2 separate regions of the Homo sapiens genome follow, and region 2 is linked to region 1. Evidence: fine-mapped expression QTL. A gene starts in region 1. The other region holds a variant in brackets. All regions are shown on one strand. Distances are between the middles of the regions. Region 1 holds the start of MICAL3 (microtubule associated monooxygenase, calponin and LIM domain containing 3). Region 2 overlaps MICAL3 (microtubule associated monooxygenase, calponin and LIM domain containing 3).

What was found. PIP is the estimated chance that this variant, and not a neighbour inherited with it, causes the effect.
Region 2: its variant is fine-mapped to the expression of MICAL3 in whole blood (TOPMed, PIP 0.99).

Annotation. Positions count from the first base shown.
Region 1 is chr22:18,022,034-18,027,402 of GRCh38, reverse strand. MICAL3 (microtubule associated monooxygenase, calponin and LIM domain containing 3) reads left to right here and starts at 2,842. Exons shown (of 32, transcript NM_015241.3): 1 at 2,842-3,122. RefSeq lists a silencer at 2,705-3,114.
Region 2 is chr22:17,993,927-17,999,295 of GRCh38, reverse strand. The region is part of intron 1 of MICAL3 (microtubule associated monooxygenase, calponin and LIM domain containing 3); the gene reads left to right. Among named protein-coding and RNA genes, the nearest start is that of MIR648, 16 kb to the right of the region's middle. RefSeq lists enhancers at 2,656-2,855, 4,447-4,947, 4,948-5,369. The variant C/T (reference allele first, on the strand shown) is at 2,494.

The sequences.
Region 1 (5,369 bases):
TCTTCTCTCAAGGAAGAAGAAAGCAGCATTAGGTTTCATTTCATCTTGGAGAACCATCAGCGAGATCACACAGCCTTATTGCCAACCTTTGACAGTTCTATTACTCTAGTTGCTTTTCCTGAGAGGTCTCCCCTACCCCACCCATCAAAGCCTAACCCTCTCTGACAAGTTTTTCAATTTACCCAATCATCCCATCAGCAGTAAATGCTGAGATTAAAACGTGAGGATCAGAGGGACAGGGCAGCTTTTCTATAGCAGGACTGAGGCTGAGGCCATCAGCAGGGTCAGTATCAAGTGAGCTCCAAGCTCCGGCATCCCTGGCTTAACCCAGGGCCTTGGAAAGCTCACCCCTTTCTCTTATTTTCTCTCCCTATTCTTACTTATTGAGGATTTTAAAATAGTAAAGGAGATACTGCGTTTTTCTGAGTAAATCAAAATAATCAACCAAAAAGCTACAAAGAACTAACCCTAGTTTCCCAAAGAGTTTGTGAGCTAAATAATTTAAATGCTATATACCAGGTGAGGGCACAACAGATGTGTGGAGGGCAGTGGAGTGGGACCGTGCAGGTCCTGTGGGGAACGGGGCTGGGTGAGTTGGATATCCCCATTGGAGAGGATTGGAAAGTCTTTAAAATGTTAATACCCTTGGACTCAATATTCCACTTCTGGGACTCACCTGGAAGGAAATTATTCACACATAGGAGCAAGATTTATGAAGAAAAAATTTTATTGCCATTATTTACAATCAATAAAAGTTGGAAATATTCAATAAAAGGGAAATTATGAGATATTCATATGATAAAAATATTGTATGACATTTAAATTAATGTTTTTTAAAAATCCTCAAAGGAGGAAGAATTTCCCACAAAGTTATTTTTAACAAAAAGCAGGATGCACTTGTGTGTCTGTGTGTGTGTGTGTGTGGTTTTATCTCAACTTAGTTTAAAGCTAGAAAGCTAGAAAAAAGACTGGAAAGAAATATGAATATTACTAATGGCTTTCTCTAGGTGATGAGATTATGAATGCTTTTCTTCCTTTATGTTTCTATATTTTTCAGTTTTTCTAAAATAAACGTTTTCGCCTAGTGCAGTGGCTCATGCCTGTTATCCCAGCACTTTGGGAGGCTGATGAGGGCAGATCGCTTGAGCTCAGGAGTTTGAGACCAGCCTGGGCCATGTGGCAAAACCCCATCTCCACAAAAATTAGCTGGGTATGGTGGTGCATGCCTGTAGTCCCAGCTATGCAGGAGGCTGAGGCAGGAGAATCGCTTGAACTTGGGAGGCAGAGGTTGCAGTGAGCTGAAATTGCACCACTGCCCTCCAGCCTGGGCAATAGAGCAAGATCCTGACTCAAAAAAAAAAAAAAAACTCCAGCGTCAAAAATAAAATAAAATGAGAAGTAGGAGAAATTATTAGAGATTCTGGACCTTTTAGGGCATTTTTCCCTAATATCCACTCAGGCCGTGCCCAGATGGCCTTGCACCTTCAGCTGTGGCATCAAACAAAACTGGGAATTGCAGCTTTACCACTTATCTCGCTGCATAAGCTTCCACAAGCAAGTTACTTACTGTTTGTGCTTTTAGGTTCTTAATATGTAAAACAATGTTTTACATTAAAAATTAAATGAAATAGCTCCTGAAAAGCCCAGTCACATTGTCAGAGCTCAGTAAAAATGTGTTCCCTTATTCTAGTACTGGGGCAGAACACCTGCAGGTTTGTAGGTGGGGAGACAGTGGACAGAGTGGCTGGGTGATGAAGTGGGGCTCTAGAGGATGAGCAGAGATTGCCTCTGAGCCGACACCCTGGCCCTGTCAGTTCCCGTCCTCACATGATGGACATGAAGGGAACACGAATGAAGCAGATGATGATACGGTTAAGTAAATACCACCTGGGACCAGAGAGAGCCCTTCTCAAGGAGTCGCCAGCCCAGAGTCGGCCCTCTTCTGAGCTGGCCGGCTGGAGTCAATCTGCTTTGGACAACACAGCTTCAGATGGAGATAATACTGAGGCCAATGATCCTTGAAGACAAAATAATCTCTGGGCTTCTTTCTGCTCTGATTATAATGTTGCAATTATACTGAGCAGATGCTGATAGGAATTTGGTCAAATCCATCCCGTCTTCCATCTAACTTATTTTAGTGCCTGGTGGATTTCTGTCCAGCTCCACGGGCTGTGGCAATGCCGGGGCTGGCTGGAAGTGTGGAAGGGGCTGGCTGGAAGTGTGGAAGAGGCTGCCCGGGCTCCGGCATCAAGAGGTTTTCTCCGGTGGGGAGGAGTGCGCGATCTGATCCTTGGAGCGCTTGCAACTGTAGCCCTCCCCCAGGGCTCTGCGCTGATCTCCAGGGTCATCATCATAGTAACAGTAAGAACTTCATTTTATAGCATTTTTCAATCTGTAAGACAACGTCGTGTCCTTTATACCGTTGAAATTTCAATTTCACGACTACTCAGATGTTACGCGACTTGCTCAGTATCCAACACTTGGTTCCTTCACTGGCTCCCGGAGACCTGGGTGCTGAAGCCACTGCAAGGAGGTGTGTGCTCGAACACACAGCGAACACCGACTGCGTGGTTAGCAGGATTCGCTGGGGAAGAGGCCTCAGGAGAGTGCTGGAATTTCCAACCTTCGAGGTGCTAGTAACGTGTGTCGAGGAAGGGGTTGGAGAAGGGGAGAAAATGAAAAGAAGGGGAGAAAATGAAAAGATGGGGAGGAGGAGAAATGGTTTGGGTTTGGTTTTGGCTTGAGCCTCACCCAAGCGTCCCACGCCGCAGCTCCGCGGCCTCCTGGGGGCGCCCGCTCGCGTTGCCACGGCGCTCGCGCGGAGCCGCAGCCCGCCCAGCCAGCAGCGCGCGCTCCTGCAGCCCCGGCGGAGTCCCGGCGGGGAGCGCCCGCGTAGGCAGGCACCCGGGGCAGCCCTCCGTCCTCGCCGCGCGGCCTGAGAACCCCTGGGCCCTGGGCGAGGGGGCTGGGCTGTGCAGCCCCCGAGGCTAACTGGGCGGGATCGCAGCTGCAGGGGTTGTGCGAGCAGCCACGGCGGCACCTGTGCCCTGCGGGCACCCACCCTGCCCCTGCCGAGGCAGGCGCCCACCGCCGGCGGTGATGCGGCTGTGAAGCCCTAGTCGGTGAGTACCCTCCAGTCCCCCTGTGGGCGAGCGAATCTAAATGACAAGGTTATGTGTTTTGCTGGATGTCTTCTAAGAATCATTTATTTAGATTGCTTATGGTGGGGAAGCGTTTCCTTTGTGACATCTTTGTGTTTCTCGGATCTATTTCGTTTCCCTCTAAACGCAGCCCTCTCTCCCCTAGTGGGAAAGACACCCAGTATCCGTGTCTCGATCATCGCACGACACCCACCAGTGCGGATGCCACGTACCACACACTCCCCAGAGCCTGCCAGAGAGCAGGGCTGTCTCCCAGCCACGTCCACCCCATTTTCATTGTGCTTCTATCCCGCAGGCAAAGGAAGAGCGTACCCAGGCACCCCCGAGGTAGGCCAGGTGTCAGGACAGCCAGCAGGCCCTTGGCGAAGCCGGGTCCGCTCTGGCTAGCTCAGCGCGGTGAACCCATGAGCTCATTAGGAGCAGCGGCTGCTTTGCGCGGGGAACGCCGGTTTCCCTGCGGCAGAGGGGCCCTGCACCCGCCCGCGGCGCGCGGTGGTGGCCCAGGACCAGTGGCGCACACGCTTGCGCTCCCAGGCTGCAGGGCGCGCTGCGCCGGCGCAGCTCCCGGGCGTGTGCAACAAAAGGACGGCCAAGTTCATTCCCTCCTGGAAGCAGAGGGCGGGGCCGCATGACTTCTGGAGGCTGCATGTGTCTTAGAATCAAATGGTTATGACTCCATAGCAAAATGCTTTCTGTGTGTCAAGTCCTCTCCGTGCCTGCCAACCCCTTCCCTCCTCTCTCCTCCCTAAAATGCTTTCTTATTGGTCTGGCACTGTGATCAACTATTTAGAATTTTCATTGTAAAGAAATGAAAAAAGGGTGAAACCGAGACAAGCTGTAGGCTGAAAGGCTGGGCCCTGTGGTGCTATTCATTAGCTCTCAGGCCTGGCTGCTGGGGAGATTTTTAGAAATCCTGCTACCTGGGTCCAATCCCTGGAGATTCTGACTTAATTGGTCTGGGATATGGCCCAAACACTGGGATTTTTTAAATTTTCTTTTTGTGGGGAGGAGTGGTGGTGGGAAAATTTGGAGTGCATACTGGATTTTTTTTTTTTAACTTCCCAGGTGATTCTAATGAGCTAAGATGGCCACCCACCATTCTAATCAATCAGGGTGACATTTTTCCAGGTGAACTTGGTAATAGTTCAGTCTCTCAGGCTGCCGTTGGAGGGCAGGGTATGCAACTGTCATAAATGCCTACAAGCTACAGGCAAAGAGAGCTGGCAGGGCCTTGGGCTGCTCCAAGAAGCTCAGGATGAAGGCAGTGTCTCAAACGAGGGAGGGATCATCACTCTCGGAACAGGTCCCTTCACTAAATGAAGTGTTCTGATCTATATTCCAGGGCAAGGGGAAAGCAGATGCATACCTTTGCAAGTCTGTAGCATGAAAGCTGTGGCTCCCTGTACATTTGTGGACTTCATGGCTGCCTATGTACTAACCAGAGTCACATGTGTATATCCCCCCACCACCCACTCACTACAAGGAGAATGGACACTTAGAAAGCAGAAGAGGGGGCTGGGCGCAGAGGCTCAGGCCTGTAATCCCAGCACTTTGGGAGCCCGAGGTAGGCAGATCACTTGGGGCCAGGAGTTGGAGACCAGCCTGGCCAACATAGTGAAACTCAGTCTCTACTAAAAATACAAAAATTAACCAGGTGTGGTGGTGCATGCCTGTAGTCCCAGCTACTCGGGAGGCTGAGGCATGAGAATAGCTTGAGCCAGGGAGGTGGAGGTTGCAGTGAGCCAAGATCACACCACTGCACTCCAGCCTGGGTGACAGAGTAAGACTCTGTCTCAAAAGAAAAAAAAAAGGGTGGGGGTGCAGGTCGGAATGCAGTAGTCACTCTGGAGAAGGAAGAGGCAACAAATAAGATCACCTAGAAATTATAAAGTGTTATTATCCTTCTCAGGCCTAAAATCCTTCCACATGGCGAGTCCCTCGTAAGCCTATGGGAAATCCTAGAAACTTCCTCTCCCTGAAAATTGGAGTCCCAGGGTAAAATCTTCCCCACAGGTACTGTTGCAGACTGGGGGTGGGCGGCAAAAAGTTTCCTCTAACCCTTGCCTTCTAAAGTTACCATGAATGTTCATAAACACCAAGGCAGGTGGAGGCAGACACTCCACAGCGAGTTCACAATGACTAAGGGGCTCAAGGAAATTAGATAAGGTCTTAAAACTGGGGGTCTGAAATGTTAAAATTTTACATAAA
Region 2 (5,369 bases), 28 kb after region 1:
GATCATGTGTTGCCCTTTAAAGGAAGGATGGCACATGCCCTGGAAGAGTGGTACACCATTCAGTACAGAAGAGCAGAGGGTCAAAGGGGACCCTTTCCTGCATCTGTCGAGTAGTCCTGCAGGTGAGGATTTTGGTTGTCGTTGGTTTCACATGTCCAGGTGGAACCAGATGAATTACCTAATTTCTCCTGGCACTGGCTTCTGGGAAGTGGCCCAGATGGTCGAAGCCTGACCATTGGCAGAGTGCTAGCTTTGCTGGGCCGTGCCTCTGAACTGGGATCTGCTAGGAGCAGCCATTTGCCTTCTCCGTCTTGTAGCAGGTTCCATGTGAACAGACGAAAAGGGCATCAAATCTAATGTTCTAGAAAAAATAAGAGCCATCATTGGCTTATTTATGTTCCATAATATTATGGGGCCTGGCATTTTAATAATAATTATGCTCTGGGCCCGGCGCGGTGGCTCACACCTGTAATCCCAGCACTTTGGGAGGCCAGGCGGGCGGATCACGAGGTCAGGAGTTCAAGACCAGCCTGGCCAACGTGGTGAAACCCTGTTTGTACTAAAAATACCAGCTGGGCGTGGTGGTGCGCGCCTGTAATCCCAGCTACTGGGGAGGCTGAGGCAGGAGAATTGCTTAACCGGGAATTGGGAGGTGGAGGTTGCAGTGAGCCAAGATCACGCCACTGCTCTCCAGCCTGGGATACAGAGCGAGACTTCATCTCAAAAAAAAAATAATAATAATAATAATTATTATTATTATTATGCTCTGGATTTACTACTTAGTTGCTTTTTACTTGAGGAAGTGAAAGCTTTTTCATGACCTGTTATCTCATTGATTCTTAATTGTCTCTGAAGTCGTTAAAGTTTAATAGAGTCTATTATTCCCATTTTATAGGCAAAGAAATGGAGGTAACATGATTTGCTTTAAGTTGCAAATGAGTTGGTCCCTGAACTGGGATTTGAATTGGGTTCTTCTTCTTCTTCTTTTTTTGAGACGGAGTCTCTTGCTCTGTCGCGCCCAGTCTGGAGTGCAATGGCGCAGTCTTGGCTCATGCACTCTGCCTCCTGGGTTCGAGCGATTCTTCTGCCTCAGCCTCTCAAGTAGCTGGGACTACAGGCACCTGCCACCACGCCCTGCTAATTTTTTGTATTTTTTAGTAGAGACAGGGTTTCACCGTGTTGGTCAGGCTGGTCTCGAACTCCTGACCTCAGGTGATTCACCCTCCTTGGCCTTCCAAAGTGCTGAGATTACAGGCGTAAGCCACCACACCCGGCCCAGGTTTTCCTTCTTAAGTTTCACTTCACTGAGACCTTTAGGGGGAAAAAATCCACACATCTTTTTCTTTTTTCTTTTCTTTTTTTTTTTTGGAAGCGGAAGGACTTAAAGATACCAGATCATTGTGCTTTTCTGATGACTAGGTAGTGGATGATAGTTAACATTTATTGAGTGTTTATCTGCAGGAATCTGTGCTAGGTGCTGCATAGACATTACCTCATTTATTCCTCACAACAACATTCAAGGTAGAACTTATCATCCCCAGTTTTACGGATGACAAGGTTTTGTGAGGTCCTAGGTCAAGGGAGTGATAGTGAGTGACAAAGCCTTGACTGAAAGCAGGGCTGGGTTCAATCCTGGGCTTTCTGATTCCAGAGTGTGTGCTCCTCCTAACCCGTGTGCTAACGGGCCTTAGGGATGACTAATGGGCAGGCCTGAGAGCCCTGACGCCTGCTGCTGCCACCACCCCAGGTCTGATGGGAGGTGGGGTTGGACGGGCTTTATGTTCTATTGCAGTACAATTTTCACATTCTGGTCTTTTCCTTTGCTAGAAGCATTCATCTAGCCAGGTGGGGGGTCATTACTTTAGAAAAAATAATCAGAGCTGAGAAAACGTCTGCATTTGCAGAGAATGAAGTATTTAATAAGACCAGATGGGCCGGGCGCAGTGGCTCATGCCTGTAATACCAACACTTTGGGAGGTTGAGGTGGGCAGATTGCTTGAGCCCAGTAGTTTGAGAGCAGACTGGGCAACATAGCTAAACCCCATCTCTACAAAAAGTACAAAAATTAGCTGGGCGTGGTGGTGTGTACCTGTGGTCCCAGCTACTCTGGAGGCTGAGGTGGGAGGATTGCCTGCGCTCAGGAGGCCGAGGTTGCAGTGAGCTGAGATCACACCACTGCACTCCAGCACTCCAGCCTGGGTGACAGAGCAAGACTCTGTCTCAAAAAAAAAAAAAAAAAAAAAAAGACTAGATGGGGAGATGAGGGACAGAGAGAATCAAAGAGAATCAAAGTGGTTTGTGGACAGAGGAAATGAGTGATACTCTGACCCAGAGGCCATCTTTAGTGTCCAGGCCATTTTGCTTGAGCTGCTGGTGAAACTGTGAAACTGGAGGCATGGCACTTGGGCTAAAGTCTGTGCGGTGAATAAGGCCCTCAGTTTCTGCTTTAGGTGGCAGAGCTGAAAATCTGATTCCTTTTTGGTCTTTAGCTTC[C/T]GGTGTACTTCAATGCAGTACATTGTGGGCGTGGTGGGGATGTGGTTCAGAAATTTACCTAAACTCTGTGGACTTCCCCCTCTCTCCAGCCACGCACTCTGTCATCTTTGGTTCCAGTCTTTAGAATTCAGCTCGGATCCCCTGGGTGATGGGTGGTGTCAGACACTCAGGTGCTTGGATTGCCCCGGTGGAGAGAACAGCATCCTGCCCCCATGGGCTTCAGTTGTACGTGACTTGCTGTTTTCTTGGAGGTGGGCTTTAGTCATCTCTAGCTATAAAGACACAAAAAAACTGGGAAGAATGACCAGGAAACTGTCACCCCAAGCCTTGCAGTTGATTGCATTTTTTTTTTTTTTTCTGAGATGGAGTCTTGCTCTGTGGGCCAGGCTGGAGTGCAGTGGCACGACCTCGGCTCACTGCAAGCTCCGCCTCCCGGGTTCACACCATTCTCCTGCCTCAGCCTCCCGAGTAGCTGGGACTACAGGCACCTGCCACCATGCCCGGCTAATTTTCTGTATTTTTTTTTTAGTAGAGACAAGGTTTCACCGTGTTAGCCAGGATGGTCTCGATCTCCTGACCTTGTGATCCACTGGCCTCGGCCTCCCAAAGTGTTGGGATTACAGGTGTGAGCCACTGTGCCCAGCCTTTTTTTTTTTTTTTTTTTTTTTAAATTGAGACAGCATCTCACTCTGCCACCTAGGCTGGAGTGCAGTGGTGCGATCATGGTTCACTGCAACCTTGACTGCCTGAGTAGTTGAGACTACAGGCGTGCACCACCAAGCCTGGCTAATTTTTAAAATTTTTTGTAGAGATGGGGTTTTGCCACATTGTCCAGGCTGGTCTAGAGCTCCTGGGCTCGAACAATTTGCCTGCCTCAGCCTCTCAAAGTGCTGGGATTACAGGTGTGAGCCACCATGCCTGGCCCCATTGACTTTTTCTCATTGGTGAGTTCAACAGAGGAGAGATGATTGCCGCAGTTTTAAAAAAGAAAAGAGGCCAGGTGTGGTGGGTCATGCCTGTAATCCCAGCCCTTTGAGAGGCCGAGGTGGGCAGATCACCTGAGGTGAGGAGTTCCAGACCAGCCTGGCCAACATGGTGAAACTCTGTCTCTACAAAAAAAATACAAAAAATAGCCAGGTGTGGGTGTTGCACACTTGTATTCCCAGCTACTCAGGAGGATGAGGTAGGTGGATCATTTGAGCCTGGGAGGCCAAGGCTGCAGTGAGCGGAGATCGCACCACTGCATTCCAGCCTTGGTGATAGAGCAAGACCCTACTGTCCCAAAAAAAAAAAAAAAAAAAAAAAAAAAAATTAAAGAAAAGGCTGGGTGCAATGTCTCACGTCTGTAATCCCAGCACTTTGAGAGGCTGGGCCAAGGTAGGAGTATTGCTTGAGGCCAGGAGTTTGAGACCAGCCTGCGCAACATAGTGAGACCCTGTCTCTACAAAAATTTTAAAAATTAGCCGGGCATGGTGGTGTACACCTATAGTCGCAGCTGCTCAGAAGGCTGAGGTGGGAGGATCACTTGAGGCCAGGAGTTTGAGGCTGCAGTGAGCTATAATCACACCACTGCATTCCAGTCTGGGTGACAGAGTGAGACCCTGTCTCTTAAAAGAAAAAGGGAGGACAGAAATCAGATTAAAGAAGAGAGAAGAAGTGAGACTGTTGGCTTATACCTTGATGAAAGGTGGAAGCGGAAGGGCAAGAGCTTCTGCTAAGTAGTGAGGACCTTGGCAAGGACAACAGTATCTTTTTCGTGTTCTGTTAGGCCGTGTCTCTCTAGCGCCCAGCTCAGAGTGCATGTGTGTTATGTGTGAGGGAATCTAGTGAGGAGTCTTCCTGCATTAGGCACGTCTGCAGGTGTCTGTTGAATTGTATATCTGTTGAAGGATTCAGTCTGGTTAACTCTGGCAGGAGATTCGGTCTGGTTAACTCTGGCAGGAGAGGGATGGACAGCACAGCCTTGTGGTTAACTAGTGGCTTTTATTGACTTTTCCTGTGTAAAGGCGAAATAAACCTTAGTGGGTCCCAGGCTTCTCTTCTCTCCTGCCCATGCTTCTTTTTTTTTCTTTTTTTTTTTTGAGACAGAGTCTTACTCTGTGGCCCCGGCTGGAGTGGCCCCAGCTGGAGTGGCATGATCTCGGCTCACTGCAGCCTTGACCTCCTGGGCCAGGCCATCCCCCAACCTCAGCCTCCTGAGTAGCTGGGACTACAGGCCCACACCACCACACCCGACTAATTTTTAAATTTTGTGGAGAGACAAGCTCTCTCTGTGTTGCCCAGTCTGGTCTTGAACTGCTGGGCTCAGGTGATCCCTGCAAAGTGCTGGGATTACAGGCACCCCACTGCACCCAGCCCTCTGTCTCTTTTCTGTTGCCAGTTGAAGTCTGGAGGTAGCATGGGTCCCGGGAGGCCAGTGCCAGTGTTGGAAGCCAAGAGAGGAGGAGCAGCTTGGTCAGGGGGAAGATGCAGAGTGCTCACTCCTGGCACCTGGAGCCCCCAGGGGAATGGCAGCTACCCTTTAGCGTGGACTGTCCCCAGCCCACAGAAAGTCAGCTTACAGAGGTTCTAGCCATATTCCTCCCTCCTCCACCAACAAAGCTCCTTGTTGTGGCTGAGAATTGTCAGGCTGTGATGGGACAGGGACAGGGGTGGGAGAGCAGCACCTGGCGCTGATGAGCACAGCAGCGATGGCAGCATCAGAGATGCTTAGAGACTGTTGGCCATGCCACACTGTCCTGAGTGCCCACGTGTCTTAACGCGCTCAGTCCTCACCACAGCGGACAGACGGGGTGCTGTTATGATCCCTGCTTTTCACACTAGGAAGTGGGGCACAGAGGGCTAAAACAAGTGGTGGCGTCAGGATTTAGATGAAG